Linked DNA regions of Homo sapiens. The protein of the gene in region 2 purifies or fractionates together with the protein of the main gene of each other region. This does not show direct contact. Each region holds a gene or a part of one and is shown on either strand. Other genes may lie near its edges.

The links.
Region 1: the proteins of CDHR4 (region 2) and TMEM67 purify together in Homo sapiens (affinity purification with mass spectrometry; one large-scale study listed by BioGRID and IntAct). This does not show direct contact.
Region 3: the proteins of CDHR4 (region 2) and CLSTN1 purify together in Homo sapiens (affinity purification with mass spectrometry; one large-scale study listed by BioGRID and IntAct). This does not show direct contact.
Region 4: the proteins of CDHR4 (region 2) and EDEM2 purify together in Homo sapiens (affinity purification with mass spectrometry; one large-scale study listed by BioGRID and IntAct). This does not show direct contact.
Region 5: the proteins of CDHR4 (region 2) and PON2 purify together in Homo sapiens (affinity purification with mass spectrometry; one large-scale study listed by BioGRID and IntAct). This does not show direct contact.
Region 6: the proteins of CDHR4 (region 2) and METRNL purify together in Homo sapiens (affinity purification with mass spectrometry; one large-scale study listed by BioGRID and IntAct). This does not show direct contact.
Region 7: the proteins of CDHR4 (region 2) and RGL3 purify together in Homo sapiens (affinity purification with mass spectrometry; one large-scale study listed by BioGRID and IntAct). This does not show direct contact.

Annotation. Positions count from the first base shown.
Region 1 is NC_000008.11:93,796,394-93,799,893, forward strand, and holds part of TMEM67 (meckelin isoform 1 precursor), read left to right. Parts: intron 1-740; coding exon 741-840; intron 841-937; coding exon 938-1,077; intron 1,078-3,224; coding exon 3,225-3,365; intron 3,366-3,500. UniProt on the Homo sapiens protein: Required for ciliary structure and function. Part of the tectonic-like complex which is required for tissue-specific ciliogenesis and may regulate ciliary membrane composition.
Region 2 is NC_000003.12:49,797,074-49,801,168, reverse strand, and holds the start of CDHR4 (cadherin-related family member 4 precursor), read left to right. Parts: upstream 1-1,295; 5' UTR 1,296-1,350; coding exon of another isoform or gene 1,351-1,356; coding exon 1,357-1,405; intron 1,406-1,731; coding exon 1,732-1,922; intron 1,923-2,012; coding exon 2,013-2,175; intron 2,176-2,251; coding exon 2,252-2,343; intron 2,344-4,095. UniProt on the Homo sapiens protein: Cadherins are calcium-dependent cell adhesion proteins. They preferentially interact with themselves in a homophilic manner in connecting cells; cadherins may thus contribute to the sorting of heterogeneous cell types.
Region 3 is NC_000001.11:9,817,466-9,820,965, forward strand, and holds part of CLSTN1 (calsyntenin-1 isoform 1 precursor), read right to left. Parts: intron 1-3,500. UniProt on the Homo sapiens protein: Postsynaptic adhesion molecule that binds to presynaptic neurexins to mediate both excitatory and inhibitory synapse formation.
Region 4 is NC_000020.11:35,126,837-35,130,336, forward strand, and holds part of EDEM2 (ER degradation-enhancing alpha-mannosidase-like protein 2 isoform 1 precursor), read right to left. Parts: intron 1-3,500. UniProt on the Homo sapiens protein: Involved in the endoplasmic reticulum-associated degradation (ERAD) pathway that targets misfolded glycoproteins for degradation in an N-glycan-dependent manner.
Region 5 is NC_000007.14:95,421,529-95,425,028, reverse strand, and holds part of PON2 (serum paraoxonase/arylesterase 2), read left to right. Parts: intron 1-443; coding exon 444-514; intron 515-1,340; exon of another isoform or gene 1,341-3,500. UniProt on the Homo sapiens protein: Capable of hydrolyzing lactones and a number of aromatic carboxylic acid esters. Has antioxidant activity. Is not associated with high density lipoprotein.
Region 6 is NC_000017.11:83,082,609-83,086,108, reverse strand, and holds part of METRNL (meteorin-like protein isoform 1 precursor), read right to left. Parts: intron 1,172-3,500; coding exon 786-1,171; intron 1-785. UniProt on the Homo sapiens protein: Hormone induced following exercise or cold exposure that promotes energy expenditure. Induced either in the skeletal muscle after exercise or in adipose tissue following cold exposure and is present in the circulation.
Region 7 is NC_000019.10:11,412,815-11,416,314, forward strand, and holds part of RGL3 (ral guanine nucleotide dissociation stimulator-like 3), read right to left. Parts: intron 3,335-3,500; coding exon 3,123-3,334; intron 1-3,122.

The DNA.
Region 1 (3,500 bases), on a different chromosome or scaffold from region 2:
CTTTCTTCCTATGGCCCCCCAATCCCCAACTCAGTGTTCTCCATCAATGTAGGTGAATCTCTTTATATGCCTGTTGGTAGTCCTTATCCTATTTTACTGTGAGTGTTAAGTGTCTGCTTTTTCCACTGACTGGGAGCTTCTTGAGGTGAAGTATCTCATACTTAGATTTTTATCCTTTATTTGATGAATAATGCAGCAACTAGAAAGAATGCCTCAGTTTAAACATATTGCTTGTATAAATAAGAAAGATGTGTTTCAACAGCACATTCTTTAAAAATCAGAAATCTGAATAGCAGAAATAGAAAAAAAAGACAGTAAGAGCATTCGAAAACTTTAATTAGGAAAAACAAACTATAGTTGAAAATATCTTTACTTATAAAGAAGTCAGCTGATCTACAAAACAAAGTGTGCTTCTAGAATCTTTGGGAAAGAGTCAATTATATAAGTCCCTATGTGAGGAGGAGGAAAAATGTCTCCTCTTTTCATATTCCTATTTTAAAGAAAGAAAGAAAAAGGGAAGGTAAATTAAGATGTATATGAAAATTCTGTGAATTTGATGATTCCAGGTTATCTGATGAGCTTCTAATGATTCCTTAGTGGTATTATAACTTCATGTGAATTCACTCATAAAATTATATGTTCTTGTGATAACAGTATGTTTCTTAAAGAGTCAATATTGGTTTTATAAGCAGACTTAACGCTGGTACTTTTTCAGGTGTTTTATTATATGTCATTCTCAGGCACTACAATTTTTGCATAAGCTCATATCCCAGATTACAATAGATGTATTCTTTATTGATTGGGAGCGACCTAAAGGAAAGGTTCTTAAAGCTGTTGAAGGTAACTGAAATAAAAAATATTTGTACCAAAATTCTTTTGCTACCCTTGCAGAGCAAAGGAGGTAAAACTCTTTTACTCATTTTATTTTCCTGACCAGGTGAGGGTGGTGTACGAAGTGCCACTGTTCCTGTAAGCATATGGAGAACATATTTTGTAGCAAATGAATGGAATGAAATTCAGACTGTGAGAAAAATTAATTCACTCTTTCAAGTACTTACTGTCCTCTTCTTTTTGGAGGTATAAACTGTTTGATGTGATTATATGCGACTTACATGTACCTTATAAATATTAAACTAATATAATTCCAACTAAGTTTTCATGACAGTGGAAGATTTCTCTAAAGGTTGAAATATTGTTGTGAAGCCATTAAAAAGGAGTACCTTTATGTTACGTATTTTACCACAATTCTTTTTTTAAGTTTACCATCTTAAGCATTTTTAAGTGTAGAGTTTAATAGTGTTAAGTTGGCCAGGCACAGTGGCTCATGCCTGTAATCCCAACACTTTGGGAGGCTGAGGCAGGCGGATCACCTGAGGTTGGAAGTTCAAGACCAGCCTGGCCAACATGGAGAAACCCCGTCTCTACCAAAAAATACAAAATTAGCTGGGCATGGCGGCACATGCCTATAATCCCAGCTGCTCGGGAGGCTGAGGCAGGAGAATTGCTTGAACCCGGGAGGCGGAGGTTACAGTGAGCCGAGATTGCACCATTGAACTCCAGCCTGGGCAGAAAGAGCAAAACTCCATCTCAGAAAAAAACAAACAAACAAAAAGTAGTGTTACGTACATTCACATTGCCACGCAAAATCATCATCACCATTCATCTTAGAACTCTTCATCTTGCAAAACTGAAACTCTATACCCCTTAAACAACTCTGTACCCATTCCCTGCTACACCTAACCCCAGGCAACCACCATTCTATAATACTTTCTGTCTCTGTGTGTTTGACTGCTCTAGGTGTAAGGAGTAGCTTTAAAACCACTGGTTTGTATCAGAATCCCTTGGGGATCTTTTGTAAAATACCTATGCTCAGGCTCACCCTTAGAGACTATGTGTTGATTTAGTAGCTTTGAGGTAACTCCAGGTATCTATATTTTGAAAAAGCTCCCTACCCCCGATCCATATTCTCCCCTGCATTAGAATCACTATTATAAGTTTGATATTTTTCAACAAATTTGTATTGAACACTTACTGTAGACTATGTTCTGTGCTAAGAGCTGGGGCTACACTGAACAAAACACAACATGTTTGTGATACATATGCAGTTATTTCATGGATTTGGTTGGAATTATTAAAGGAAGTATTCAGTACTGAGTATAAGACTGAACATGGAAACAGTTTATATGGGAATAGGTTTTCTCAGGAATTATCTGCTTAATTAAGATTGAATATAAATCATTAACTCTTAGGTCTGTCTGTCTGCCTTCCCTCTTTTTTCTTCTTTCTTTCCATTCTCTTTCCCCTTTCCCTTCCTTTCCTTTTATAAAACTAGTAGAAGAATGTTTGTATCCCTAGGGCTTTAAAATAATATGAACAAGACTTCCAAAGTTCACTTGAAGTGGTATTTTGGTTTTTCTTAAATGGACAGATAAAAATTACATATGTTTATAGTTTACAATACAGTGTTTTGATATATGTATTCATTGTGGAATGGCTAAATCAAGCTAGTTTATCTGTTACCTCACATCTTTTCTTTTTGTACTAAAGTAGTGTGTGTGTGTGTGTGTGTGTGTGTGTGTGTGTGTGTGTGTTTAAGAGTTTCCTCAGCTTTAAAAGGTGTTATGTGAAAAAGTTTTATGGTCAAGTAAGTTTGGAAAATATTGGATTCAGTATAATCATGTAGCACCTTTTACTGTAAAACTTCTCAGAGCCTTTATTCTACAAGGGTGGGAGGCATGGAGGTGAGTGTAATGGATGGACCAAAAGTATTTAAACATAGATTCTTTTTTCAAGAACTTATGTCCTTTAGAAGACATTTTGTAATATACTGTTTTAAAGTATAAAAATGTTTAGTACAGTGCCTGGCACATGTCAAATACTCATGAAATACTACTTGTTGGTTTCACTCATTGGTAGTTTACTGATGAAAGTTTTATCCTTTTAATTAAATTTTTAGTCTTGTCAGTGTGTATGACAATAAGGTTATATTTGGCCCTTAGTCATATTGAGAAGAATGCCAAATGAGCTAACTAAATATTGTGTAATAAATACTTTGTAGTTAAAATACTATATAATAATTATTTTTATCTAGATTTTCTACTGTTTATACAAACTTAGATATTTTAGTTTTTCAAGGTGAGTAGGGAGAGGTTTTCTGTTTTCAGTCTAGAGTAGTTTTCTTTATCCATGTCCGTTTAAATTACTACTTTTCCTTTTTACTCCAGGTTGTGGGATTCAAGAACTTAGCATTAATGGACTCATCTTCTAGTCTTTCTAGAAACCCACCTAGCTACATAGCTCCTTATAGCTGCATTTTGAGATATGCAGTGTCTGCTGCTCTTTGGCTAGCCATTGGAATTATACAGGTAAGGAATTATACAGGTAATATTACTTCTAAGTAACATTGCTTCTTTATAACTCTGCCTAATTACTGATTATCATCAAATATTGACCACATCCTTCTTTCTGTAGCAGAAAGAAGGTGACAAGAACAATAGCTA
Region 2 (4,095 bases):
TGACAAGGGCAGTTTTGTGTAGAGAGGGACAAGCCTGATTAGAGTGTGTGGAGAAGAGAGTGAGGACTGAAGAACTGGAGATGGCAAATAAAGACAACCGTTTTTGTTTTTTTTTTTGAGACAGGGCCTCACTCTGTCACCCAGGCTGGAGTGCAGTGGCATGATCTTGGCTCACTGCAGCCTCCATCTCTGGGGCTCAAGTGACCCTCCTATCTCAGCCTCTCAAGTAACTGGGACTACAGGCATGTGCCACCACACTCAGCTAATTTTTTTTTTTTTTTTTTTTGTAGAGACAGGGTTTCACCATGTTGTCCAGGCTGGTCTCGAACTCCTGATCTCAAACGATCCTCCTGCCTCAGCCTCCCATACAGGCATAAGCCACCGTGCCTGGCCAGAAAACTTAAAAAAACTGACATATAAATACAATAAATAGACAGATCTCAAAGTTACAGCCCAGTAAATGTTAAAATCTGTAGACACTTGTGCAGCTGCCACCCAGATATAGAACATCCTCAGCAACTCCTGGATGCCACCTGGTGCCCTATCCAACTGATATTCCCAACGGTAACCAGTATTTGTATTTCTATCATAAAGGATTCCTTTTGCTTGTTGGATGTAGACAACTTTTTTTTTCTTTTTTCTTTTTTTTTGAGACAGGGTCTTGCTCTGTCACTCAGGTTGGAGTACAGTGGCACAATCATGACTCACTGCAGCCTCGATCTCTTGGGGTTCAAGCAATCCTCCTACCTCAGCCTCCAGAGTAGCTGGGACTACAGGCCTGGATCACCACACCCAACTAATTTTTTGTAGAGATGGGGTCTCACTTTGTTGCCCAGGCTGATATTGAACTCCTGAGCTCAAGTGATCCTCCCACCTCAGCCTCCCAAAGTGCTGGGATTACAGATGTAAGCCGCCACACCCAGCAAGTTTTGAGAGATTTTGTTGACGGTTGGGCTCATTTTTTATAGGCAGATAATGTTCTAATGGAGGGGGTCCAGCTGGAGTTGAGACTCTGTGGGGTAGCAGGTCCTGGGCCAAATTTTCCTGGGTGCTGTGCTTGCTCTATCTCCACGGATTGCATGACCAGTTTCCTCATCTGAACCTTAATCCTCCTCCCCTTCCATGCCCTTAGAGTTGTAATGAATGGGGGCAATGGAAAATGGGATATTCTGAGCCTCTGGAAGCCTGCCAGAGGTCTAGAACTCAGTCACCAGGGATGGGTGGGGATAGAATCTGGGAGGCCCAGGAGTCCCGCCTGCCCAGCTATGTTTGAGCAACTGACCTGGCAACAGGGTGAGTCAGACAAACAGCCTAGCTTTCTGAAGCCTCCTCTGCTGTCTGTGTCTTCAGGTCATCATGGTGCTGCTCAGGCTCCTCGTGTTCCTCTTTGCTCCGGTGGTCTCTGGTGAGGAGGTGGTGGGTGGGGGAACCGTAGTTTTCCCTTGGAGTCCTGACCCTTCCCAGATAAGCTACCATGGAGGACAGGGATTGGGGGAGAGGTAGGAAAGTGTAAGAATCTGAACCCCTGGCCCTCACCCCTTCTCTTGGCCACTTCCTCAGTCAAGTTCTCACTCCCCATCTGTGAAATGCTGGATGCTGGATACAAGGAAAGGCCTTAGCTGCTTGGCCCCATGGCATGGCCAGGCCCTGTGGCAAAAGGACAGGACTATGCTAGTATGTGTGGTTCCATCAGCCTGGGGGCCTCCAGCCTGAATTCTCTGCTCTTCACAGACCTCTGCAGCCTGCCCTGCTTTATAAATGTCTCTGAGAGCCAGGGCCCTGGCACAGTCCTTCAGTTTTTATCCTTCAACTGCTCCTCCTACACGCCCACACCCACCCTGGAGTTGCTCAATGTCCAGCCACCCACCACCTTCTTCAACCCACCCAGCTTGGCCAGGTGGCAAGGGACCTATGTGGGCAAGGTAGGGTCATGTGTACAGCTGGGGACTGTGGGGGCACAAGGGCAGACCTAAAATTTCCAAGCCCCACATGGCACTGTCCACCCACCCCAGTTGACCTTGAGCAGCTCTGCTCAGTTGGATGCCCTGATGGTGAACCACTACAAGGTGCAGCTGAAGTTCACATGTGGCAACCATGTGATGGAGGGCTCACTCTCTGTGGATGTGCAGCGGGACCTTAGCCATATCCAGTGTGCTGGTCAATTTGCCAGCCCAGGTGAGGCCAGGGGCAGCCGGCAGGGTGGGGGCAGGCATGGCCTGAGCAGATCCTCCCTGACCTCCACTCTGGCCAGCTGGGGAAATGATTCAGGTGCCAGAGACAGTCACACCTGGGGCTCGGCTGTACACTCTGCTCCTCCCAGGCCTAGAACTCCACGGAGCGCAGGTAAGCCCAGAACATGGGACGGTGGGTGACAGGATGGGGGTGGGGGGATGGAGAGAATAAATTAACCCCCACCTGGCCAGGCACAGCCTGAAGAGGAACCTTGCAGCAGAGGCATAGATGAGCCTCTACATGATGTATGTTCTTGGAGAGAGCTGCTGAGGGCTGCTCACTCCCCAGTGACCATGGCTGTTCCCACAGGGACATCTCAGGGGCTGAGTTCTTTTTTTTTTTTTTTTTTGAGACGGAGTCTTGCTCTGTCGTCCAGGCTGGAGTGCAGTGGCGCGATCTCGGCTCACTGCAAGCTCCACCTCCCAGGTTCATGCCATTCTCCTGCCTCAGCCTCCCGAGTAGCTGGGACTACAGGCACCCGCCACCACGCCCGGCTAATTTTTTTGTATTTTGTAGTGGAGACAGGGTTTCACCGTGTTAGCCAGGATGGTCTCGATCTCCTGACCTCGTGATCTCCCCACCTCGGCCTCCCAAAGTGCTGGGATTACAGGCATGAGCCACCGCTCCCAGCCAGGGGCTGAGTTCTTTCAAGATCTGCTATGTGTTCTCAGTTCTTTATGACAATTCTGTATCATTTCTGTAATCAAAAAAAAAAAAAAAACAAACATGTAGGTAATGGCCAGGCACGGTGGCTCACACCTGTAATCCCAGCACTTTGAGGGGGCTGAGGCAGGTGGCCTCAGGAGTTCGAGACTAGCCTGGCCATCATGGTGAGACTCTGTCTTTACTAAAAATACAAAAATTAGCCAGGTGTGGTGGCGTGTGCCTGTAATCCCAGCTACTTGGGAAGCTGAGGCAGGAGCATCGCTTGAACCCAGGAGGTGGAGGTTGCAGTGAGCCAAGATTGTGCCACTGCTCCAGGCTGGGTGACAGAACAAGACTCTGTCTCAAAAAAAAAAAAAAAAAAAGTATTTAAAAACAGTAACTGGCTTGAAAGCAAAAAGGATTGAGGACTGCGGCCAGGGCTTGGGCTAGAAGTCAGGGAGCCCAGGCTGGGATAAGGGTCAGTGGTGAAGCATGAGAAAACTGGGTGTCAGGCTGGGCACAGTGGCTCACACCTGTAATCCCGCATTTTGGGAGGCCGAGGCGGGTGGATCACTGGAGGTCAGGAGTTCGTGACCAGCCTGGCCAACATGGCGAAACCCTATCTCTACTACAAATACCAAAATTAGCCAGGCGTGGTGGCGGGCACCTGTAATCTCAGCTATTCGGGAGGCTGAGACTGAAGAATCACTTGAACCCAGGAGGTGGAGGCTGCAGTGAGCCAAGACTGAGCCATTGCACTCCAGCCTGGGCAACAAGAGTGAAACTTTGTCAGAAACAGGAAGGAAGGAAGGAAGGAAAGAAGGAAAGGGAAGGGAGGGAAGGAAATTAGCCGGGTGTGGTGGCACAGGCATGTAATCCCAGCTATTCAGGAGGTTGAGGCCGGAGAATCACTTGAACCCAGTAAGTGGAGGTTGCAGTGAGCTGAGATCGCACCACTGCACTCCAGCCTGGGCGACAGAGAGAGACTCTGTCTCAAAAAAAAGAAAGAAGGAAGGAAGGGAGGGAGGGAGGAAGAGAGAAGGAAAGAAAGAGAGAAAGGAAGGAAGGAGAGAGCGAGAAGGAAAGAAAGAAAGGAAGGAAGGAGAGAGAAGGAAAGAAAGGAAAGAAGGAAGGAAGGAAAATAAATTGGGTGTAGGCAGGTGCCTGCTGGGTTGCTGGAGGGTTGCTGCTGGGTTGTCGATGGGGGTGCTCAGGGCA
Region 3 (3,500 bases), on a different chromosome or scaffold from region 2:
TACAGGCATGCGCCACCACACCCGGCTAATTTTATATTTTTTAGTAGAGATGGGGTTTCTCCATGTTGGTCAGGCTGGTCCCGAACTCCTGACCTAAGGTGATCCGCCTGCCTCGGCCTCCCAAAGTGCTGGGATTACAGTTGTGAGCCACTGCACCCAGCCAACTTTCAGATGTTTTATAGGCATTTAAGCTGCTTTAAACTCTGCTACTTTGAAGTACGTGAATCTCTGCCAAGAATCTTTAAAAATAAAAACTTTAGTAACAGATCTTGTGAAAATTTTTAATCTAATAATAATATCCTAAAGCTAAATCAAAAAATGAGCAAAAATATACCTAAAACATAGGAGAGAAAGAACCTATCAAATCAGGGACAACTGAAAGCAGCATTCTAGTTCCCGGGTGGTGGCAGCTCTTAGGGAAAAGACGGGTATTGTATGTCAGGCTGACACAGTGGGGAGGCTGTCGCCATTTAAGGGTTCCTATATATGGCCTTTGCATAGCCTCAAAATGTCACTTTTGAGGGTCTGTTAGTTTGGCTTTTTTTTTTTTTTTTTTTTAGAGACAGAGTCTTGCTCTGTCGCTCAGGCTGGAATGCAAGTGGTGTGACCTTGGCTCACTGCAGCCTCAACCTGCCAGGCTCAATCAGTTCTCCAGCCTCAGCCTCCTGAGTAGCTGGGACTACAGGCATATGCCACCATGCCCAGCTAATTGTTTTGTATTTTTAGTAGAGATGGGGTTTCACCATGTTGCACAGGCTGGTCTCGAACTCCTGGACTCAAGCAGTTCACCCATCTTGGCCTCCCAAAGCACTGGGATTACAGGTGTCAGCTACCATGCCTGGCCGTTTGGGTTTTTTTTTGTTTTTGTTTTTGTTTTTTCCTGAGACTGAGTCTCACTCTGTCGCCAGGCTGGAGTGCGGCGGTGTGATCTCGGCTCACTACAACCTCCGCCTCCCGAGTTCAAGCAATTCTCTTGCCTCAGCCTCCCAAGTAGCTGGGACTACAGATGCATGCCACCATGCCCAGCTAATTTTTGTATTTTTAGTAGAGACAGGGTTTCATCATGTTGGCCAGGATGGTCTCCATCTCTTGACCTCATGATCCACCCACCTTGGCCTCCCAAAGTGCTGGGATTACAGGCATGAGCCACCGCGCCAGGCCTTGGTTGTTTTTTAATGCACGAACATGACATTGCATAAATAATTTCCACCAATCTTGAATCTGTAGTCCTGAAACACTACTAAAATCCGTATTTTGTAGCAAATCAACATTTTAAATTTCACTTATAAAGACATATTTCTTCAAGCAACTCTTTTTTTTTTTTTTTTTTTTTTTTTTTGAGACGGAGTCTCACTCTGTCGCCCAGGCTGGAGTGCAGTGGCGCGATCTCGGCTCACTGCAAGCTCCACCTCCCGGGTTCACGCCATTCTCCTGCCTCAGCCTCCCGAATAGCTGGGACTACAGGCACCTGCCACCACGCCTGGCTAATTTTTTGTATTTTTTTTTAGTAGAGACAGATGGGGTTTCACCGTGTTAGCCAGGATGGTCTTGATCTCCTGACCTCGTGATCCACCCACATTGGCCTCCCAAAATGCTGGGATTACAGGTGTGAGCCACCGCACCCGGCCCCTTCAAGCAAGTCTTCACACCAAATTAAGACCCACTAAAAAAACAAGTTTTAATGATCTAAGCCCTCAACCAGAATACATAAGAAATAGACTCTTGGCGGTTTTTTAGGATAATCAGATCTCTATTTTGTTTCAACTCTTATAAATGAAAACTACCCAAAAAAATTAAAAAACATACTTTCCTGTCTCAGAAAGCAATAATAAAAATAACTCAGTACTTTTTTTCCTTTGTTCTAAAATTTTAACCTATCTCAGCTTCCTCATTTTAAACATTTAGACTTGGTTTAATAAGCTTCACTAAGTCCTGCAGCTAGTGTTACGAAATTACAGCATTTTCTATTTTCAATGTAATATTTTATATCCCACAAAAATTTCATTTTTTGGTCATATTCTTCATAACTAAAACTGAAATATTATTTGCGTTTTTGGCTTGAATATCAAATACTGGCACAGATAATGTATGTTATGACCTCCTAAACCTTCCTTTTGAAAAATAATTCCTATAAAACTGCTTGGTTTCATGCTTTTTCTCCCAAAAGAAATATCCAGCCAAAGGACGAATTCCAGCTAACTGAAGGTTCCAGTTAACCGAGTGAATGCTCTAAAATTGGAATATATTCAAAATTGTTCGTATTTTATTATTTCTTCAGCAGTTATAGGTCTCCTTTGAGAAATAAATGTTATTTACTTTCAGTATTAAAAATGTTAGACTATGGGTAATACTGAGGTCTATATTCGAACGACTTTTTTCCACATCGTTACTTCTGAAAAAACGAGGTAACAAATTAAGAAACCATCTTCCCAAAAAAGCTGAAAATTATAGTATTTTTAAAGGGACTAACAGGGGTAGCCACAGAGCTACAGCCTTCAAAGGCTGAGACAGAGTTTCATGATCTAATATCCCCAATACTGCAACCAACAGAATTGATCCTTGAACTTTTTTTTTTTTTTTGGTATTTTTGTAGTGACAAGGTTTCACCATGTTGCCCAGGCTAGTCTCAAACTCCTGGGCTCAAACAATCTGCCTGCCTAGTTCTCCCAAAGTGCTGGAATTACAGGGGTGAGCCACCGAGGCTGGCCCCATGATCCTTGAAAATTTACCCACTAATGAATTCCCATATCGACACTGCAGAATTTAAGTTTGGGCCGGGTGCAGTGGCTCACACCTGTAATCTCAGCACTGTGGGAGGCAGAGGCAGGCGGATCACTTGAGGTCAGAAGTTCAGACCAGCCTGGCCAACATGGTGAAACCCTGTCTCTACTAAAAATACAAAAATGAGCCCAGTGTGATGGCATATGCCTGTAGTCCCAGCTACTGGTGAGGCTGAGGCAGAAGAATCTCTTGAACCCGGGAGGCGGAGGTTGCAGTGAGACAAGATCGCGCCATTGCACTCCAGCCTGGGTGACAGAATGAGACTCTGTCACAAAAACAAAAACAAACAAAAAAAAAACTTAAGTTTGCTTTACACTATGTAATTTTTTTCAGTATATAGCATTTATCTGTAAAGTGAAAATTAGGATGCAAAGCTACTACGCTGTCTAAACTGAAATGCTGTTATCCATCCACCCATTCATTCATTCAATCACACAATACTGGCATGCCTCTGGTGTGCTGGTGACGGGAAACATATGCAAAGCAGATACCCTTCCATCTTGGGGCATATGTTCTACTGAGGGGAAACAGACGATAAACAATTCAATAAGTAAACAACAAGGCATGTTAGAATGGGCTAAGTGCTATGCAAAAAGAAAAAGTGTTGCAGGGAAACAGGATTTAGGGGTTCAGGAAGAGAAATTATTTCAAATAGGATGGTGAGGGGAGGTCTCACTAAGCCTATGTGCAAATGGAAAAGTAACAGTGAATTTTATGTA
Region 4 (3,500 bases), on a different chromosome or scaffold from region 2:
AGGAGGCGGAGGTTGCTGTGAGCTGAGATCGCACCATTGCACTCCAGCCTGGGCAACAAGAGTGAAACTCCATCTCAAAAAGAAAAAAGCAGAAAATAATTGATGTGGTTTGGCTGTGTCCCCACCTAAATCTCACCTTGAATTGTAGCTCCCATATTTCTCACGTGTTGTGGAAGGGACCTGGTGGGAGATAATTGAATCATGGGGGCCGTTTCCCCCATACTGTTCTCATGGTAGTGAATAAGTCTCACAAGATCTGATGGTTTTATAAGAGGTTTCCCCTTTCACTTGGCTCTCATTCTCTCTTGCCTGCACCATGTAAGATGTGCCTTTCGCCTTCCGCCACGATTGTGAGGCCTCCCCAGCCATGTGGAACTGTGAGTCCATTAAACCTCTTTTTCTTTATAAATTACCCAGTCTTGAGTACGTCTTTATCAGCAGTGAAAATGGTCTAATACAGTAATGTTAGGTATCTGTGGAATTTTTCAGTCATTTATTTATACCACAAACATTCGCTAAGCACCTACTAGGTTCCAGGCTCCTATGAGTTTGTAAACAAGACAAAATCCAGCCTTCAGAGAACTTACATTCTAGTAGGAACTTGAATTTATCCCTCATATCTCTCCCCTAGATTGTAAATCCATGAGGCCTGGGACTTTGTTTTGTCTACTGCAGAATCCCCCACACTAGTACAATGAGCAATAAACATTTTCTGAATGAACAAAGTACCAAATATACATGCAAATAAATAAGATAATCTCAAACAGGAGTTGTAAGGATTATATGAAACAGTCCATGTTCAGAGCTTGGCACAATGCTTGGTACATCCGTGGTATTCAATAAATATTTGTTGAATAAATGAGTAAAGTAGTCCCCCCTTATGTGAGGAGAATACGTTCCAAGACCCTCAGTGGATGTCTGAAACCATGGATAGTACTAAATAAACTCTATATACAGTCATGTGCCATATAACAACATGTTGGTCAACACTGAACTGTAGAGATGGTGGTCCTATAAAATTATAATAGAGGTGAAAAATCACCACAGCCTAAAGATATCACAGCTGTTGTAATTTTATAATGCAATGCATTACTTACTTGTTTGTGGTGATACTGGTGTAAACACACCTACTGTGCTGCCAGTCATAAAAGTATAACACATACAATTATGTATAGTACGTGATATTTAATAAACAACCATTTACGCGTTTATGTATTTACTATATTATTATCATTAGATAACTCCTTCCTCTTATATAAAAAAAGTCGGCTGGGCGTGGTGGCTCACACCTGTAATCCCAGCACTTTGGGAGGGCGAGGTGGGCGGATCACGAGGTCAGTGTTAGACCATCCTGCCTAACACGGTGAAACCCCATCTCTACTAAAAATACAAAAAAATTAGCTGGGTGTGGTGGCGGGCGCCTGTAATCCCAGCTACTCGGGAGGCTGAGGCAGGAGAATGGCGTGAATCCGGGAGGTGGAGTTTGTAGTGAGCGGAGATCACACCACTGCACTCCAGCCTGGGCAACAGAGCAAGACTCTGTCTCCAAAAAAAATAAAAACAAAAACAAAAATTAGCTGGGCGTAGTGGTGGGTGCCTATAATCCCAGCTGCTCAGGAGGCTAAGACAGGAAAATCACAGGAGAATTGAACCTGGGAGGCGGAGGTTGCAGTGAGCCGAGATGGTGCCACTGCACTCCAGCCTGGGCAACATAAGCAAAACTCTGTCTAAAAAAAAAAAAAAAATGAAACAGCTTCAGGCAGGTCCTTCAAGGAATTCCAGAAGGCATTGTTATCAATCATCTGAGATAACAACAGTTCTGTGAGTGTTACTGCCCCCAAAGACCTTCTAGCAGGATAACATGGGGAAGTGGAAGACAGTGATATTGATGATACTGACCCTAGGCCTAGGCTAATGTGTGTTTGTAGCTTAGTTTTTAACAAAAAAGTCTAAAAGGTGAAAACAAAATAAAAAACTAAAAACAGAAAAAAACTTAGAGAATAAGGATATAAATAAAATATTTCTGTATAGCTGTACAATGTGTTTTAAGCTAAGCATTATTACAAATGAGTCAAAAAGTTTTTTAAAATTTTAAAGTTCATAAAGTAAAAAAGTTACAGTAAGCTAACGTTAATTTATTATTGGAGGCCAGGCATGGTGGCTCACGCCTCTAATCCCAGCACTTTGGGAGGCCAAGGTGGGTGGAGATCACCTGAGATCAGGAGTTTGAGACCAGCCTGGCCAACATGGTGAAAACCCATCCATCTCTACTAAAAATACAAAAATTAGGCCAGGCACGGTGGCTCACGCCTGTAATCCTAGCACTTTGGGAGGCCGAGGCGGGTGGATTGCCTGAGCTCAGGAGTTCAAGACCAGCCCGGGCAACACAGTGAAACCCCATCTCTACTAAAATACAAAAAATTAGCTGGGCATGGCAGCGTGCACCTGTAATCCCAGCTACTCGGGAGGCTGAGGAAGGAGAATTGCTAGAACCCGGGAGGCAGAGGTTGCAGCGAGCCGATATTGCACCACTGTACTCCAGCCTGGGCAACAGAGTGAGACTCTGTCTTTAAAGAAAAAAAAAATCAGCCAGGCATGGTGGTGGGCGCCTGTAATCCCAGCTACTCAGGAGGCTGAGGCAGGAGAATCACTTGAACTGGGGAAGCAGAGGTTGCAGTAAACCAAGATCATGCCACTGCACTCCAGCCTGGGCAACAGAGCAAGACTCTATCTCAAAAAAAAAAAAAAAATTTATTACTGGAGAAAGAAAAAAAAATTTAAATAAATTTAGTATAGCCTAAGTGTACAGTATTTATAAAGTTTACAATAGTGTAATGTCCTAGACCTTGACATTCACTCACCACTCACTGACTCACCCAGAGCAACTTCCTGTCCTGTGAACTTCATTCATGTGCCCTTTTATACTGTATTTGTACTGTACTTTTTCTATGTTTATATACATACTTACCATTCTATTACAATTGTCTATAGTATTCAGTAGAGTAACATGCTGTACAGGTTTGTAGCCTAGGAGCAATAGGCTACACCATATAGCCTAGGTGTGTAGTTGGCTATACCATCTAGGTTTGCTTAAGTACACCCTATGATGTTTGCACAATGATGAAATCACCTAACGATGCAATTCTCAGACTATATCCCTGTCATTAAGCAATGCGTGACTACTGTTTTCCTATACATACACATCTATGAGAATTCTTAATTCATTAAATTTTTAAAAATTTTTATTTTTGAGACAGGGTCTTACTCTGTCACCCAGGCTGAAATGCAGTGGTATGATCACGGTTCACTGCACCCTTGACCTCCCAGGGTCAAGCAATCCTTCACCTTGGCCTCCCAAGTAGTGGGGACTACAGGCACGCACCATCATGCCCAGCAAATTTTTTTTTATTTTTTGTAGAGACGAGGTCTCACCATGTTGCCCAGGCTGATCTTGAACTTCTGGGGTCAAGCAATTCTCTCGCCTCAGCTTCCCAAAGCAC
Region 5 (3,500 bases), on a different chromosome or scaffold from region 2:
ATTTTCTCTTGGCTTCTTTGCAGTCTCTGTGTGAGGCTTACAGTCATTTTTCACGTTTGACTCTTCAGAAGGAAGACAGGGCTACTGGTTCTACATCTGGAACTCTTTTCCCACAACACCAACACTGAGAAATGTGACATGGTGCTGTGTTTACATTTGCATAGGAACTTGCATTATAAGTTTTATTTGTTGAGTTATTGGCTTTTTTTTTTTAATAACCCACATCAGTATATAGAACTTTGCAATAGGCATTTTTGTTTTAACTTCATTTCTGGTGCAGTTTTATTTTCCTACCCTTGTCTTTCTATTTTCTCTTTCATCTGCTTTAGACTTAAACTGTGTTTTATGTATTGCTGTAAGCCTCTTTAAACCCTTTCTAAAACAAAGCAGGGAATACATAAACAAATAGTTTTTTGTTTTTTGTTTTTTTTTCTTTGTAACAGAAATCGACTTAAAGCCTCCAGAGAAGTAGAATCTGTAGACCTTCCACACTGCCACCTGATTAAAGGAATTGGTATGTATATGAAAATGCTTGTTGGGCACATTGCATTTTTTGGCCATTAACATTAAAACACTCATTAATGGCATTTTAGCATGAAATTACTGCTTTTCAGTGGATAAATCACATTAGATCAACAAAAACCTCTTTGGTCAACCTCTTGATCTGATGAACCCTGTATTTATTCTTCTTTCCTACCCTCACTGTAAATTATTCTTTTTTGTGTGTAATTCTATGTTTAGCATTTGATTTCTTGCTTGTTTTGTGACTTCTCTGAACTATTTTTGTTGCGTCTGTATTGTTTGTCAGGTATGGCCGCTGCAGTCTGTGTTCTGTGAGCCTTGTGGTCAGCTAGTGAAGGAAGCTTTATGTAGGCAGTGACAGCATTTACCCTGCTCACTACTCTATAACTAGGATCTGATCTTATGGCTAACACGTAACTGACCAATATGGTTTGGTTGTGTCCCCACCCGAATCTCATCTTGAATTGTAGTTCCCATAATCCCCACGTGTTGTGGGAGGGACCCAGTGAGAGGTCATTGAATCATGAGGTGGTTACCCTGTGCTGCTGTTCTCGTGATAGTGAGTGAGTTCTCATGAGATCTGATGGTTTTATAAGGGCTTTTCCCCCTTTTGCTCGGCACTTCTCCTTGCTGCCGCCATGTGAAGAAGGGTGTGTTTTCTTCCCCTTCCACCAAGATTGTAAGTTTCCTGAAGCCTCCCCAACCACACGGAACAGTGAGTCAATTAAACCTCTTTCCTTTATAAATTACCCGGTCTCAGGTATGTCTTTATTAGCAGCCTGAGAACGGACTGATGTACCGGCACTTCACAATATGTATTGTAAAAACTTGTTTTTATTTTATCTTCTAAGCTATGACTGCAGAGGGGGAGTCTCCCTCTTCCCTTGACTTTATGTAGGATGTATTGTGGAGTCTGAGTCTTTGAGTAGGGGTTCCTAAGAGCAAGCCCCAATTTTGCTATAGATAAGGAGGGATCTGTCCAGATTCTTCTCCAGCACTGAGGGTCTCTCTGGTGTGTTTGCAGTTTTTCTCCAAGGTAGAGTCTGTGTCTTGCTGTCTTTTACCCTTTATCATCTACTAAGTACATGTCCCTAGTACATAATAGACTAGTAGTTAGATTATCAATGAACAATAAATATTGGCTTTCCTTTTTTTTAAATTTTAATTTTTTTTTTTTTTTTTTTTGAGAGGTGGCCTCACTTTGTCACCCAGGCCAGAATGCAGTAGCGCAATCTTGGCTCACTGCAGCCCTGATATCCTGGGCTCAAGCGATCCTCCCGCCTCGTCCTCCCAGGTAGCTGAGACTACAGGCACATGCCCCCACTCATGGCTAGTTTTTTATTTTTGTAGAGACAGGGTCTTGTTATGTTGTCCAGGCTGGTCTTGAACTCCTGGCCTCAAGCAATCCTCCCAGCTTGGTCTCCCAAAGTGCTGGGATTGCAGGCATGAGGCACTGAGCCCAGCCAATATTGGCTTTCCTTAGATATGGTTCATGGTATGATTAGAAACAAAAAGAATTAGCAGTCAAAACACCTAGTTTCTAGTTCTATTCTGCCACAATGTAACCTTAGGCAAAGTTGGTTTTTGTATTTGTCACCTATAATGATGAGTTTGTGATTAGACTAATGGTTTTTAGACTTTAAAAAGCCTGGGACCATTTATTTATAATCTTACTCTGAGAGCCACAGTGTGGAAATAACTAGACTGTCATTGAGTCACTTCTAGTCCTTTACAACAACATCCTTCTCTAGAGGTAGGAGAGACAATTTAATATTTTGTTTTACTCTTTAGAAATTAAAACTCGGGTTACATGGAAATGTTCTCTTCTCTGAATAGGTAACATTGTTAAACAAGTTTTGAGTGTCCTTCCATCTTTTTCTTTTTATGAATACTCCTGTACATAATTTTTAAAAACATAAGTGAGGTCAAATTATGCATAATATTTCAAAACTAGCTTTTTGTACTTAATACTAGGTTTTGGAAACTTATGTTTGTACATAATGTTACCTTTTCTTCACAACTGCACAGTATTTTTTGTGCAAAGTTCATATAAACAGTGTATGTGCAAACAATATAGAAAGATATAAAATGGAAAGTAAATAAAAATAAAAATCTCTCATCAAACTCTTCATCACCCCCAACAGAAATAACCCCAAAGATAAAGCTCCCTTTTTTATCTTTCCTGATAGTTTCAGTGCATTTGCAAACAAATATATTGACTCTTTTTTTCACAAATAGAATTTTAGTGTAAATATTTCACAACCTTCTTCATTCCTAAAACAGTGTGAGCAGCTTTCCACATCAGCATATATAGTTACTTTGTTCTTTTTAATATTTTCACATTCCATGATTTATTTAACCATTCCCCTTTTAATGTACATTTGGGTTGTTACAGTTTTTTGCAACTATGAACAAATCAGTGAACATCATTGCTGTTGAGTTTGTGTGTCTGTAGAATATGTCCTTAACAATGGGATTGTTGTTCCCTTAGAATATGTGTTTAGAGTTTTGACAGTCATTGCTAAGTTGCTCTCAATTTGGCAACAGTAATAAACTCAGTACCTCATAGTTGTAACCACATTCACTCCAGACAGAGTTCTCAGCACTCTTTTAGTAAAAATAAACCATCAGTTGACAGTGCCACCTTCAGAGTTTCTCTACAAATACCTTGCTTGCCTCCCTTTCTTTTTTTCTTCTTTTAAATCAGCTTCCTCAGGTTGATCTGCCTCTCATTCCTTAGGCATCTGTTTCCTATGTGTTCTTTCTCCTTTTTTTCATTGATACTTTTGTATTTCCCCAGTTCTACCTCCCCTCCCCTAGACTGGTTGGCTGTCCTGGAATTTCCCTTCCTTCTTTCAATTGCCCAAACACTAAGTGGGAGGAGGCAAACTCATATCAAATAGCAGATTGACTACATCTGTGCTGGATCATGCAGACAGTTCAAGAGTCCCAAGTAACTTAGCAGCTTCATCTTGCCT
Region 6 (3,500 bases), on a different chromosome or scaffold from region 2:
TCCTGGTGTCTACCCACAGAATTTTCTAGAGACCAACACAGCCCTCCACGAAGGACCTCTCCCCCAAGCACAGGCGTCCAGAGACGCCACGTGACACCTCCACTCCCTGCCGGCCACACAGGGAAGCTGTCTGTTTATCGTACCCACAAGACCCCTCTGGGACGGGGGTGGCCCCATGTTCTGGGCGTCACAGCTCAGCACCGCTCAGGGCTGAGCCAGCCTCAGCTCCCACCCAAAAATGGACGTTTCAGGGTCTTTAGCCGACACCACAGACACCCAGCCAATTCCCAGGGCAGTTTGAATGGCAAAAGCACCCGTTTCAAAGGTGCTACACGATCCACAAGCATGGGGGCGCGTCCGACCCAGCACTGGCCCGGCCGCCACAGGGGGATGCTCACCATGCTCCCCAGACACACCTCCAGGGAGAGAGGCCCCGCTCGGCCAAGGCCATGCCGCCCGAAACACTAACCCAGATGGGCCAGTCTTTTCAAAGGTGGTTTTAGTTGGAAAGGCTGCATTTCCAAGATGGTTTAGTTTAGACATCCCACACCCCCCTACACCATGTCACACCCCCTAGGAGGGCCCCTCTGCGGGCGCCAGTGTCCCCCAACCCCAGCCACCTGGGGGGCTCTTCAGGCAAAACAGTCATGTCCGAAGCACAGACACAGAAGGGTTTTCACCAAGGCTGAGCAGACGAGGGGACAGGAAGAAATCAGAGACACCTGCCACATCACCAGCCCCGTGATGACGAGGCCCGCCGCCCCCGCCCCAGGCAGGACACTCACCAGACAGCTCGTGCAGGTCCGACGCCCTGTGCCTCCTAACCAGCTCGTACTGGAAGCCTGTGGTCCTCCGGCCGATATCCTGCTGCGGCGTGGCCTCCACGAACAGGCCGCCCTGCTCCAGGCCAAAACACTGCACCCGGCCGGGCCTGCCGTCCCCGTCTGGTACCAGCAGTCTCAGTTCTCCAGTTTTTTCCAAATAAATATTGGCCCCCGAGGAGTCCGTGAAGGACCTGATGCACACGGTCAGGTGCCGGGCAGGCGAGAAGGTGTTGGGCCGCAGGTTAACGATGAGAGCACCTGTTGGGTACATCCACTCCACGGCACCCGCCGCACAGCGCAGATACACCTGCTCCACCTCCTTCCTGTGTGCCTCGTGCGTCAGCCCGCTGCAGAGGAGAGACACTGTCAGCCAGGCCCGGAGCTCCCGTCACACACCCCACCCGCACCCACAGAGAGTCAGTGAGGACGATACCCGCTCCAAATGATGGCGGCTCCTGGACCCACCCGCTGCCGGCCACAGGTGCCACACGGACCCCTGCCCGTGAGGCAGGCCGGCGCCATCTCCGCCCTTCGGCACAAGGGCCCCACCCAGTTCCTTCCAGTGCACCTGCACCAAGAGCCATGGTGGGGCGGGGCCGAGCTCCCGGGAGTGCAGGCGGTGCTTGTCCCCAGGCCCTCCAGACACCCTCCAACACTCAAGAGTCTGCGCCTCTGCTGCCGTAGCGTCAAACACCAATCTCTGCGATGTCCCTGAATCAGGGTGGCTGGAGGTGCTGGGGCAGTGGGATGGAGCCCCAGGGAAGGGATGGATTCCTCCAGAATATCACGGAGTATCACAGGAATGCCAGCAGGCCCTGTGTACCAACCCTGGTTCCAGATGACCACGAGGGCTGGGACGCTAGAGGTAAAGCGAAGGTGGGGCCCCACCACGTGTGAAGGAGGAGCCCTGGGATGCAACCTGCCCAGAGAGCAGCTTTTAAGTTAATCCAGAGTGTTGGCAGTTTGGGGGGAAGGAGGTTGTAGATGAGTTTTGTCTTTTAGCACCTCATTAAGCATAGATGTTTGTACATTTCTCAAAGTAATGACTTGACCGTTTTCTGCAAGCCTGAAGACCCTGCACTGCCGACGGTATTTGTAAATATAAGCTATCATTACAGCAAGACTCACCACAAAAGCGAGGCGAACTTCCTCCACAGGGTGAGTAGTGTGTGAGTAGCAAGCTAAGTTCACCCTCATACATGCTAAACAGAAAAAAATGAAGTGTGCTACACTCTTGGAGAGGCAGGTCCTGAGTAGAAACAGTTATATTTTCAAGAAACTGAAACATCAAAACCCTCACGCTTCTCAACACTTTAACGTAAATGCCAGCTCGTGGCTAACAGCCACGTCATAACCAAGTGGGCCTGGAACTAACCCGGTGACTTCAACTAAGTGTTTTATTACGCAGATCTCAGACAGGTTCACCCACATTCTTAGGATTTTTATGTGAAATAAGCAATGCTGTTTCCAGAGCCCTGGCCTGAGCGAGTCACCAGAAACCCTTTCTGCAGCAGAGAAAATGCATCACATATGGTTTGCATTTACCGCTGGTGACTCACACTCTGGGCCCCCAAACCTCACTCTTCATAGGCTGCAGGCCACATCAGAGGGTGGTGTCGAGGGTGCACCCCTCCTCACCCTCTCCCCACCCCGACAAGGCCCCAGGTCACGAGTGGCCAGGCCTAGCCGGCTGCCAGGATCACACACCCAGAACAGACTCACAAATTACAGCCCATAAAGCTCACACAAGCTCATCTAACACGTGTGTGGGCAAGGGCACGATGATCGTGCTGTGTGGAAACTGGACTCGGTGAGTGGCTGATACACTCAGCTACAGTCAGCTCTCTTCTTATGCAGCCTCATCGTCACGTCTCTCCCTCCCGTCTCTGGCATCGAGGCCACTGTCCTCCTGCCCGTGCTCAGGCACCGAGCCTCGACCCTCTCTCCACATACACCGTCCTGACACGTTGCCTCCCTCTCGGGGAGTCCTGAAGGTCGAGGGAGCGGGCTCTGGTCACCTCTGACAGCACTGCCTTCATCTGAGCAGGCGAGGGGAACAGCCACAACTCAGCTGGGGACAGGCGGCCAACCCACCTCTGCCCAGGAGGAGGCCGACTTGAGCCTGGGGGCCGTCCTGGCCTAGCACATGCTACCCGCATCTGGTGGGCACGCCTGGCTCCACCCACTCAGAAGACACTGGGCAAAAAGAGGAAGAGGACAAAATGAAGGTGGACACAGAAGAAAGAAGACACCCGGCTACCCCGGCCTTCACCTGACGTCTTCTCAGCGCACTCAGACGGGTCTGCACCCAGCACAGGGCCTGCTCCCCTCTCCTCTCACATTCTCCCGAAACATCCAGACCAACGGGACTCCAACCAGACCCGCTGACGTAGGGATTTTCACATTAAAATCAGTAGCACATGATGCGCAAGACCCGTGTAGACAAAAAAAGTTAAACGATGCATCCTTCAGCCTGGGACCCAGCAGACCTCGGCACGAAGTCCGAGACTCATGGTCTGTGCTGGTTCCTACCAGAAAATCGAGTGCCTCAAATCTCTCACCTCCAAATATCCAGCACCTCAGCAAACCTGAAAACAGAGTCTGTTTATGCAAAATTGCTGGCATTGCAAAAATGTGACCTATCTTTAATGGTCATGGATGAGGGCATTTTGTGAT
Region 7 (3,500 bases), on a different chromosome or scaffold from region 2:
AATTAGCTGGGCCTGGTGGCGGGCGCCTGTAGTACCAGCTACTCAGGAGGCTGAGGCAGGAGAATCACTTGAACCCAGGAGGTGGAGGTTGCAGTAAGCCAAGATCGCGCCATTGCACTCCAGCCTAGGCGACAGAGCGAGACTCTGTCTCAAAATAAAATAAAAGTAAAAATAAATAAAATAAAATAAAATGAAATAAAGTGTGTCCCAGGGCCTAGCACATAGAAGGTCTTAAACAAATGTTAATTTTCTCCTCTGACCTCAAAGAAACTAGGGCAGCACTTTCCATATAATTCTCTGCAATGGTGGAAAAATTATCTATCTGCTATGTCCAGTGTGGTGGCTGAGCACTCAAAATGTGGGTAGTGGGATTGAAGACCTGAATTTTTGCCTTTGCTTGACTGGATTTTGAAAAAGAAAAAAAAAAAAAAAAAAAGCGGGCCAGGCATGGTAGCTCACGCCTGTAATCCCAGCACTTTGGGAGACCGAGGTGGGTGGATCACCTGAGGTCAGGAGTTCAAGACCAGACTGACCAACATAGTGAAACGCTGTCTCTAATAAAAATACAAAATTAGCTGGGTGTGGTGGCAGGTGCCTATAATCCCAGCTACTTGGGAGGCTAAGGCAGGAGAATCTTTTGAACCTGGGAGGAGGAGGTTGCAGTGTGCCGAGATGGCGCCACTGCACTCCAGCCTGGGTGACAGAGCGAGGCTCCGTCTCAAAAAAAAAAAAAAAAAAAAAAGGGCAGGGTCAGGCACAGTAGCTCACACTTACAATCCCAGCACTCTGAGAGGTTGATGCTGGAGGATTGCTTAAGCCCAGGAGTTCGAGACCAGCCTGGGCAACATGGCAAGACCCCATCTCTAAAAAGAAAAGACCTGAATTTTATTTAATTTTAATTAATTAATTAATTATTATTATAATTTTGTTTTTTGGTTTTTTTTTTTTAGGCAGAGTCTCGCTCTGTCACCCAGGCTGGAGTTCAGTGGCTTGATCTCAGCTCACTGCAAGCTCCGCCTCCCAGGTTCGCGCCATTCTCCTGCCTCAGCCTCCCGAGTAGCTGGGACTACAGGCGCTCGCCACCACGCCCGGCTAATATTTTTTTGTATTTTTAGTAGAGACGGGGTTTCACCATGTTAGCCAGGATGGTCTCGATCTCCGAACCTTGGGATCCGCCCCCGTCGGCCTCCCAAAGTGCTGGGATTATAGGCATGAGCCGCCGCGCCCAGCCAATTTTAATTAATTTAAATAGCGACAGGGGCTAGTGGATACCACAGTGAACTATGGAGCTCTAATGACTTGGAATCAGCTGGAGAAATCATATATATATATATATATATATATATATATATATATATATATACACCTATATATATATACCTTTATATATATATATACCTTTATATATATATACCTTTATATATATATATACCTTTATATATATACCTTTATATATATATACCTTTATATATATATACCTTCATATATATACATATATATATATACCTTCATATATATATATATACCTTTATATATATATACCTTTATATATACCTTTATATATATATATACCTTTATATATATACCTTTATATATATATACCTTTATATATATATACCTTCATATATATACATATATATATATACCTTCATATATATATATATATATACACCTTCATATATATATATATATATATATATATATATATATATATACCTTTATATATATATAAATAACTGAGACTTTGTCACCAGGGATAGAGAAGTGGCTGCTACTTTGTAAATTGGACAGGAAGGTGGCCACTATAATCTGGAGATTAAGCGATGGGGATTAGGGATAGAGATGCTTTTGTGATGTGGATCAGATCAAATACAGATGGGTGAAAGATGATACTTCCTAAGCAGGATGCAATTATTCAGCAAACTAATCTGTGTTGTTCCTGCCCCTGGGGACAGAGCTGGGAGCAAGAACAACAGGTCCTCCTCTCATGCACTCACAGCCTATGAGATGAGCAAAAGCCAATAATCAAGTAAGGAGGCTACGCATGCACAATGGCTTATGGCTGTAATCCCAGCATTTTGGGAGGCCAAGGCAGGCAGATCACTTGAGTTCAGGAGTTTGAGACCAGCCTGGGCAACATGGCACAACCTCACCTTTACAAAAAAATTAGCCGGGCGTGGTGACATGCGCCTGTGGTCCCAGCTACTCAGGAGGCTGAGACAGGAGAATGGCTTGAGCCCAGGAGGTGGAGGTTGCAGTGAGCCAAGATTGTGCCACTGCACTCCAGCCTGGGTAACAGTGCGAGACTCTGTCTAAAAAAAAAAATAGATAAAAAAATAAAATTAAATTAAATTAAATTTAAAAAGAAATTCAAAAATAAGAAAAATTTTACAGGCTAGGTATAGTGGCTCGCGCCTGTAATGCCAGCAGTTTTGGAGACCCAGGCGGGAGGATCACCTGAGTCCAGGATGTTGAGCCTGCACTGAGCCATGATGGAGACACTGCACTCCAGCCTGAGCAACGGAGCAAGACCCTGACTCAAAAAAAAGAAAATAAAGACAAGTATCAAGGCAATGGTTTGTAGCTAGAAACACAGAGCATCCTGACCCAACGGCACCAAGGAGGGAAAAGTATTAGACACATGCTAATACTTCAGACAAAGAATTTGTTTTTTTTTTTAGACGGAGTTTCGCTCTGGTTGTCCAGGCGAGAGTGCAATGGCACGATCTCGACTCACCGCAACCTCCGCCTCCCGGGTTCAAACGATTCTCCTGCCTCAGCCTCCCGAATAGCTGGGATTATAGACATGCCCCACCACGCCCGGCTAATTTTGTATTTTTAGTAGGGATGGGGTTTCTCCATGTTTGTCAGACTGGTCTCAAACTCCTGACCTCAGGTGATACACCATCCTTGGCCTCCCAAACTGCTGGGATACAGGCGTGAGCCACCACGCCCGGCTGACAAAGAATTATTATCCCCATTGTAAAGATGAAGAAATTGAGGCTTAGAGTTTAAAATCTTGCTTAAGTTTTGTAGCTCTGAGAGGGGAGAGAAAGCCTGTGTGGGAAGAAGCAGACAGGAAAGGCCTTCTCAGAACACGACTGGATCTGAAAACCCCTCACCTGTCCACACCTGAGGCGGCTCCTCTTCCTGCTCTCGCTCAGCCTCCTCCAAAAAATCTTCCAGAAGCTTCTCTGCTTTTTGAGCCTCAGCACTCCCTGGGGCCGCCCAGCCCAGAAAGGTTCGGACACTGCCCAGGTCCGAATGGGCAGGGTGGTCTCGGAAATCCTGAGGGTGGTCCTGCAGCCAGGAGCCCAGCACTGACACCACAGCCCTGGCCAGAGAGGCAGGGTCTCAGAGCTGGGTCCAGAGTGGGGGACATAGAATATGACTCCTGGTACCTTTTTTTTTTTTTTTTTTTTGAGATAGAGTCTTACTGTGTCACCAAGGCTGCAGTGCAATGGCCTGATCTTGACTCACTGCAACCTCAGCCTCCCGAG